Homo sapiens: one gene and its partner. The protein of the gene in region 2 interacts with the protein of the main gene of each other region in a pairwise test. Each region holds a gene or a part of one and is shown on either strand. Other genes may lie near its edges.

Region 1 (3,654 bases), on a different chromosome or scaffold from region 2:
CCACAAGGCTCTCCCCAGATGTCAAGCAGTTTCAAAGCTCTTGCATCCATACCCAGGCCCTTCCCATGCCACTCTCAGGAAGAATTCATTCCTCTTCCCAGCAGTCCCTTCCAGCATTTTGTCCATACCCGTATCACAGCACTGGGTGGTGAGGACAATGTGTCCTGCAACCCTGGTCTCCTCAGGGGGAGACCCTGGTGGATTGGCCTTTGTTTCTGGGCCTCCGGACCTAGGTCTGGGAGACGCAGGTGTTCAAGGGAAGGTCTAATGAAGTAAAAGCACAAGTGAACTCTCCTCTTACCCAAAGGGCCTGACTGTGCCCTTTCTGAGGGCCCGGACAGCCCCACCCTCCATTTTCAATCATTCTATCCTCCTCGGGAAAGCAAACATCCAATCCCAATTGGCTGAGTACAGCACTAGAGGACCCTGGGACAAACACAGGTGGCCTGGAAAGTTCCAGACCTGGAAATCCTGCTCTAGGAGCCTCTCCCTGTCCTCCAAGTCATAGGGATTTTAGCTTTTCAGGCACAAATGCAACAAACTCTGTGAGCTTCACTCAGAAACAGCTATGTAGACTAATCCCTCCTCCTTGTCCTTCTGTTTGCATGGTGGCCTTTCCAAGTCCTGCCTGTAGCTCCCTCCTGAGCCACTGTCCCTGCACTGTGTTTGCCACTTCATGCACCCTCTCCCTCCTGGCCTGCCCAATGCCCACACCTCCTCTAGGAAGCTTGCCTAGCCTAAAGTCAGCCCTATGAGATAGGCTTGCTCGGGTCCCTCATGCATCATCAGCATTTCATGTATTTCTTTCTCTAAACAGGATCTTAGACCCTTTTCATATCCCTATCACGTAGAGCATTCCTAGATCCTAGATGATATTCCCTTTCATGGGGAGACCACATTCTGTGGATCCATTTCCCAGTTGATAGACATTTGGGTTGTTTCCACTTTCCAGCTTTCAGGCTGTTATGAATAATGCTGCCATGAACATCCACGTGTAATGTGTTTTTGCATGGATGTATGGTTTTGTTTTTTTGGTTTTTGTTTGTTTGTTTGTTTTGTTTTTTTGAGACATAGTCTTGCTCTGTCACCCAGGCTGGAGTGCAGTGGCACGATCGCAGCTCACTGCAACCTCCACCTTCCGGGTTCAAGCGATTCTCCTGCATCAGCCTCCCAAGTAGTTGGGATTACAGGTGTGCGCCACCACACCCGGCTAATTTTTGTATTTTTAGTAGAGACAGAGTTTCGCCATGTTGGTCAGGCTGATCTTGAACTCCTGACCTCAGGGGATCCACCTGCCTCAGCCTCCCAAAGTGCTGGGATTACAGGCGTGAGCCACTGCACCTGGCAACGTGGACATATGTTTTTACACCTCTTGGGTATATACGTAGGAGGGGAGTGACTGGGTCATATGGTAACTCTGTGCTCTGTGTTTAACCATTTGAGGAACTGCTTGACCTGTCTACACAGCAGCTTCCCAGCTGCTGCTTGTATGAGGCTTGCCTTCAGTGTGACAGGACTAGGAAGAAAGTCTGTGTGAAATGCCTGTTTTCAAAGAAGTAGACTATTGTGAAGCACTCTTTAAACTGCATCTTCGCTGTTGAGTCTTTGATGATTCCAAAGGGACTTGTGGATTCTTCAAAGTCTCAAGGGCACTGCTATGAATGCTGGTCGTCTTTGTACCAGCAGACACAATTCTGGCTAGGAGGCTGTGGCAACAGAGATGGTGCTGTTACAAATCCTTAAGTTCAAGGTGCAAGGGAGAGACAGGTGTGAGTTAATGCCTGTGAGGAAGGCTCCTGGAAGACAGAGGGCAGGCTCTGAAGCCTGGTCTCCAGGGCAGGCAGGTGAGAGCGCAAGGAGGCTGGAAGGGGGGCATGGAGTTGGGGTCCATGTGAGTCTGGGATGAAGCAGGATCTGCCCCCCTAGGCTTCCTGTGCCCTCCGCAATTCTCCCACTCCACTCGTTCACAAACGTACAACAGGCGCCCATGCCACAGCTCTGTCACATGGGTCACTGAGCAGCAGTGACCTCTCGTAGAAGGATGGAGAGACTGCTCTCTGGAGAAGAGGGCAGGCACTGCAGCAGTCAGGCCACACTGCTTGTCCATCCAGAGGAACCATTTCTAGAGCATCTACGAGGCTCACCTGCTGGACTCCTGCCACCTTGATGGCAAGCACCTACAACCACATGCTCTGAATATGCCCAGCAGAGAAAATGCCAACATCGGCCAGGCATGGTGGCTCATACCTGTAATCCCAGCGCTTTGGGAGACTGAGGCGGGCAGATCACCTGAGGTCAGGAGTTTGAGACCAGCTTGGCCAACATGGTAAAACCCCACCTCTATTAAAAATATTAAAATGACCCAGGTGTGGTGGCACACACCTGTAATCCCAGCTACTTGGGAGGCTGAGGCAGGAGAATCGCTTGAACCTGGGAGGTGGAGGCTGCAGTGAGCCGAGATCACACCGCTGCACTCCAGCCTGGGCGATACAGCAAGATTCCATCTCAAAAAAAAAAAAAGAAAAGAAAATGCCAACATCCCTGGCATCTGTCACTCCTGAACTGAGAGAGCAACACAGGAGAACAACACTAGATTGGAAGGTGAGAAGGGGGCTCATTCAAGACTACTGGGAAATAACAACTCCCAGGGCCTCAGGACCCAAACACCCTGCTGGTCTGTTCAGAACAAGAGAATCACTCCAGGAACCACACCCTTGATCCTTGTTCAATCTGCTTCACAGCCAGCTAGAGGCAGAAGTGACCTAGAGAGTTCCAAGCTGCAGGGAGAACACAGGTCCATTTTCAAAGTCAACCCATGGGAATGATTTCATGGGTGTCGCTGACCAGGGACCAGCTCTGGTGGCACTCCCCAGACAGGGTCAGAGCCTGAACGATGAGAGCTGGCCATGCCCTCCTGGCTGGAGCTGACCAGGGCCTACCTCGGAGCTGACTGAATGTGGTCATGAACTTGCTGGTGAGGGACTTAAGCTCGTTGTTAGCCAGGGTGATGAGGTGGATCTGGCCAGAGACATTCCGCAGGACCTTGTAGATGCCAATGGGAAAGGAGACCAGCTTGCACTCGGCCAGGTCTGCAGCCAAAGAACAAAAACAAACCAGAGTTATCAGCCACAGCTGCCCGAGAACTTGTCCCAGACTCACACAGACCCCACCTCCATGCCCCCTTCCAGCCTCCTTGCCCTCCCACCTGTCTCCCCAGGACCAGGCTTCAGACCCTGCCCTCCCTCTTCCAGGAGCCCTCCTCATAGGCATTAACTCACACCTGTCCCTCCCTTGCACCCTGAACCTAAGGATTTGTGTTAGCACCATCTCTGTTACCACAGCCTACTAGCCAGAATCGTGTCTGCCGGCACAAAGATGACTGGCATTCATAGCAGTGCCTTTGAGATCCTGCAGAATCCACAAGTCCCTTTAGAATCATCAAAGACTCGACAGCGCAGATGCAGTCTAAAGACTGCTTTACAATAGTCTACTTCTTTGAAAACAGGCAATTCACACAGACTTTATGGTTTGATCTTCTTCCTAGTCCTGTCACGCTGAAGGCAAGCCTCGTACAAGCAGCAGTTGGGAAGCCACTGTGCAGAACAGTCAGGCACTTCCTCAAATGGTTAAACACAGAGCACAGAGTTACCATAT
Region 2 (3,654 bases):
TTACTATTTGGCTGAGAAAGGTGCCAGGACCTGTAGTAAAGGTTTATATTCTATGATTATTATTAGGCTGAAAGAAGTCCGGGTACCTGGAACAAAAGTTTATATTTTATTATTATTATTTAGCTGAAAAAGGTTCTGGCACTTCAGTCAAAGGTTTATGTTCTATTATTATCATTATTATTATTATTTGGCTCACAGGTGTCCCAGTACCTGGACCAAAGGTCTGTTTTCTATTAATACTATTCTTATTATTACTATTTGGCTGAAAAAAGGTTCTGGTACCTAGAGCCAAGTTTTATATTCCACTATTATTATTTGGTTGAAAGAGGTCCCAGTACCTAGAAGAAAAGTTTATATTCTATTATCATTATAATTATTATTACTGTCATTATTGTTGGTCTGAAAGAGGTCCTGGTACTGTGAACAAAGGTTTATATTCTATTATTATTCTTATTTGGCTGAAAGAGCTCCCAGGACCTGGAGCAAAGGTTTATATTCTATCATTATTATCATTATTACTACTGTTATTATTATTACTGGGCTGAAAGAGGTCACAGTACCCTGAACAAAGGTTTATATTCTATTGTCATTATTATTATTATTGTTATTATTTGGCTGAAAGACGTTCCAGGAGATGAAGCAAAGGTTTATATTCTATCATTATTATCATTATTACTATTATTATTATTATTACTGGGCTGAAAGAAGTCACAGTACCCTGAACAAAGGTTTATATTCTATTATCATTAATATTATTATTATTATTTGGCTGAAAGACGTTCCAGGACGTGAAGCAAAGGTTTATATTTTATCATTATTATCATTATTCCTATTGTTGTTATTATTATTGGGCTGAAAGACGCCCCAGTACCATGAACAAAGGTTTATATTCTATTATTATTAATATTATTGTTATTATTTAGGTGAACAAAGGTTTCTATTCTATTATGATGATCATCATTTGGCTGAAACAGGTCTAGTACCTGGAGTGAAGTTTTGTACTAAGAGCCAAAATTCCCAAACCCCTAACCAAGTGACTCCTGGAAGGAGAAACAAGAAGCTCCCTCCCACGTCTCCTGCTGTCAGAATTCCATGGGATTCCCAGGTAAAGAACCGTCCACACAGTAGGTGGGTTCCACCTGAACCCACGTAACAGCCACAGCAGAGCTGACCTTCTGCAGTGAGTACCCTCCTTCCTCCTTCCTCCTCCCTTGCAGCGCTTCCGAGCACACAAGGCCACGAATAAAGGTTGCTGTAAACCAGCCTCTCACTGCCTCATTCTTCAAGACTGGTGCAGCATCCCCAGTGCGGGGGGAGGGGGGTTTGGGGGGGACACTCCCCAAAACGCTCTCAGGGGGCCGGCGATTTCACGTTTCCAATTGCACATCCATGAGAGGCCAGTGGATGTGCCTCACATGACTCTTACCAGAACGACACGTCGCAAGAGACCAGTGTGAAGAAGCAGAGGAAGGAGCCAGCCGCCATCCGTCCCTTTATGGATGAGACTGACAAAACCCTAAAACTCAGCCACTCTTCTCCCTAGGTTTTTGTTATTTTGGAAATGACAATCATTTTTCTTTTAAAAAACATACAGCACATGGCCAAAGGGTACCAAGTTTCTGTTCGACAGGAGGAATCCGTTTCAGTGACCTACTGCACAGCGTGGTGGCGATAGTTAATAGTGTATTACATATTTCAAAATAGCTAAAAGAGGTTTTTATTTTTGTTTTTGTTTTTTTGTTTTTTTGGTTTTTTTGAGACGGAGTCTCGCCCTGTTGCCCAGGCTTGAGTGCAGTGGCGCAATCTTGGCTGACTGCAACCTCCACCTCCCAGGTTCACACCATTCTCCTGCCTCAGCCTCCCAAGTAGCTGGGACTACAGGCGCACACTGCCACACCCAGCTAATTTTTTGTATTTTAGTAGAGATGGGGTTCCACTGTATTGCCCAGACTGGTCTCAAACTCCTGAGCTCAGGCAATCCACCCGCCTCAGCCTCCCAAAGTGCTGGGATTATAGGCATGAGCCACCGCACCCGGCCCGCCAATAGAGATTTTAAATGTCTTGCGTGCAGTGTATACTGCTTGGGTGATGGGTGCACCAGAATCTCACAAATCACCACTAAAAAACTTACTCATGGAATCAAACACCACCTGTTCCCCAATAACCTATGGAAATAAAAAACAAAAATAGCTAAAAGAGATTTTAAATGTTCCCACCGCAAAGGAAAAATAGCGGGTGATAGATATTAGTTTAATTATTCCACAATGCAAACATACAGCAAAGCATCACACTGTGCCCCATAAGTGTACACATTTATATATTTATATAAAAATATCAATTGTTTTTATTTACATCTAAATTATATAAATATAACTTATTTGTATTTTATATTTATAGAAAAGTATAAATTATTCTAAAAATATATATATTTAATAAAAATAAAATATAAAAACAATAAATATATTACATACATTTTTGTATGTAACATGTAATTGGCCTGTTACCATTACTTTTAAATAGATTGTTAAATATGTTTTAAATTTCTGTTTTAATGTCTAACAGGATGACTTATTGACTGTTATAATCCACAAAAACAAAAACTGTCTGGGGTCCTCATTTTTTTTGAAAGAGATTCTATGATCAAGGAATTGGAGGCCGGGGGCAGGGGCTCACCCCTGTAATCCCAGCAATTTGGGATGCCAAGGTGGACTATCACCTGAGGTCAGGAGTTTGAGACCAGCCTGACCAACATGGAGAAACCCCATCTCACTAAAAATACAAAATGAGCCAGGCATGGTGGCACATGCCTGTAATCCCAGCTACTCGGGAGGCTGAGGCAGGAGAATCGCTTGAACCCGGGAGGCAGAGGTTGTGGTGAGCTGAGATCACGCCATTGCACTCCAGCCTGGGAAACAAAAGCGAAACTTGGTCTCAAGAAAAAGAAGAAGAAGTTGGAAAACTGCTGTTTTTACTTCTACCTGATTTCTAATAGCCACTGTTCACTACTCATAAAACCAACAAGAATTAACTTTCCCTTTACAGGTTAAAAAAAAAATAGTTTGAAAAGTAGGACTTCTATAAATAGCTTTGTAAGTGGGCCAGTTGGCATATTTTTTGTAAATACTCACTCCTGTGGTACAGCATTTACGAATCCATTTTGCATCCCAGAAAGTGAAGGAATATTCTGTGGCCTATTATTTACAATAGAACTTTTAAGAAAAATTCTGTGGCAGTATTGGAACTGGACTTGACTACAGGTACCATCAATTTTCTCTCCTTTGCAAAACTCATTGATGTATCAGAGAAAATGTAATTTCTAAACAGATCACCCTGTTATTAATACCGGTGGGTAGAGACTTTCTTTACTCAATATGATCATTTTCAACAGATTTCAGGCCATATCAATGTTCAAGTTTTGATGCCATATTAGGATATTAAATGCACTGATTAAATCATCTATTTTAAAATCCAACCAACAGATACAACTTACTGAATGGGCCGCATGGATATAGTCTTAAGAACACAGAGACAGACCCTCTTATGGGAATTCTCAATTTGCTTCTAAACCCCCTCTGTAAAGGCATGACCAACATCTATGATTAATTTGTAATTATCTTGTTTTTCCATGATGAACTGTAAGAAGACACCATTTAG

Evidence for each region. Proteins that work in one complex are often made in the same cells at the same time.
Region 1: the proteins of ZBED1 (region 2) and LRRC20 interact in binary tests that used the Homo sapiens proteins (3 or more experiments, as listed by UniProt).

The regions. Positions count from the first base shown.
Region 1 is NC_000010.11:70,337,614-70,341,267, forward strand, and holds part of LRRC20 (leucine-rich repeat-containing protein 20), read right to left. Parts: intron 3,090-3,654; coding exon 2,940-3,089; intron 1-2,939.
Region 2 is NC_000023.11:2,494,461-2,498,114, forward strand, and holds part of ZBED1 (E3 SUMO-protein ligase ZBED1), read right to left. Parts: intron 1-3,654.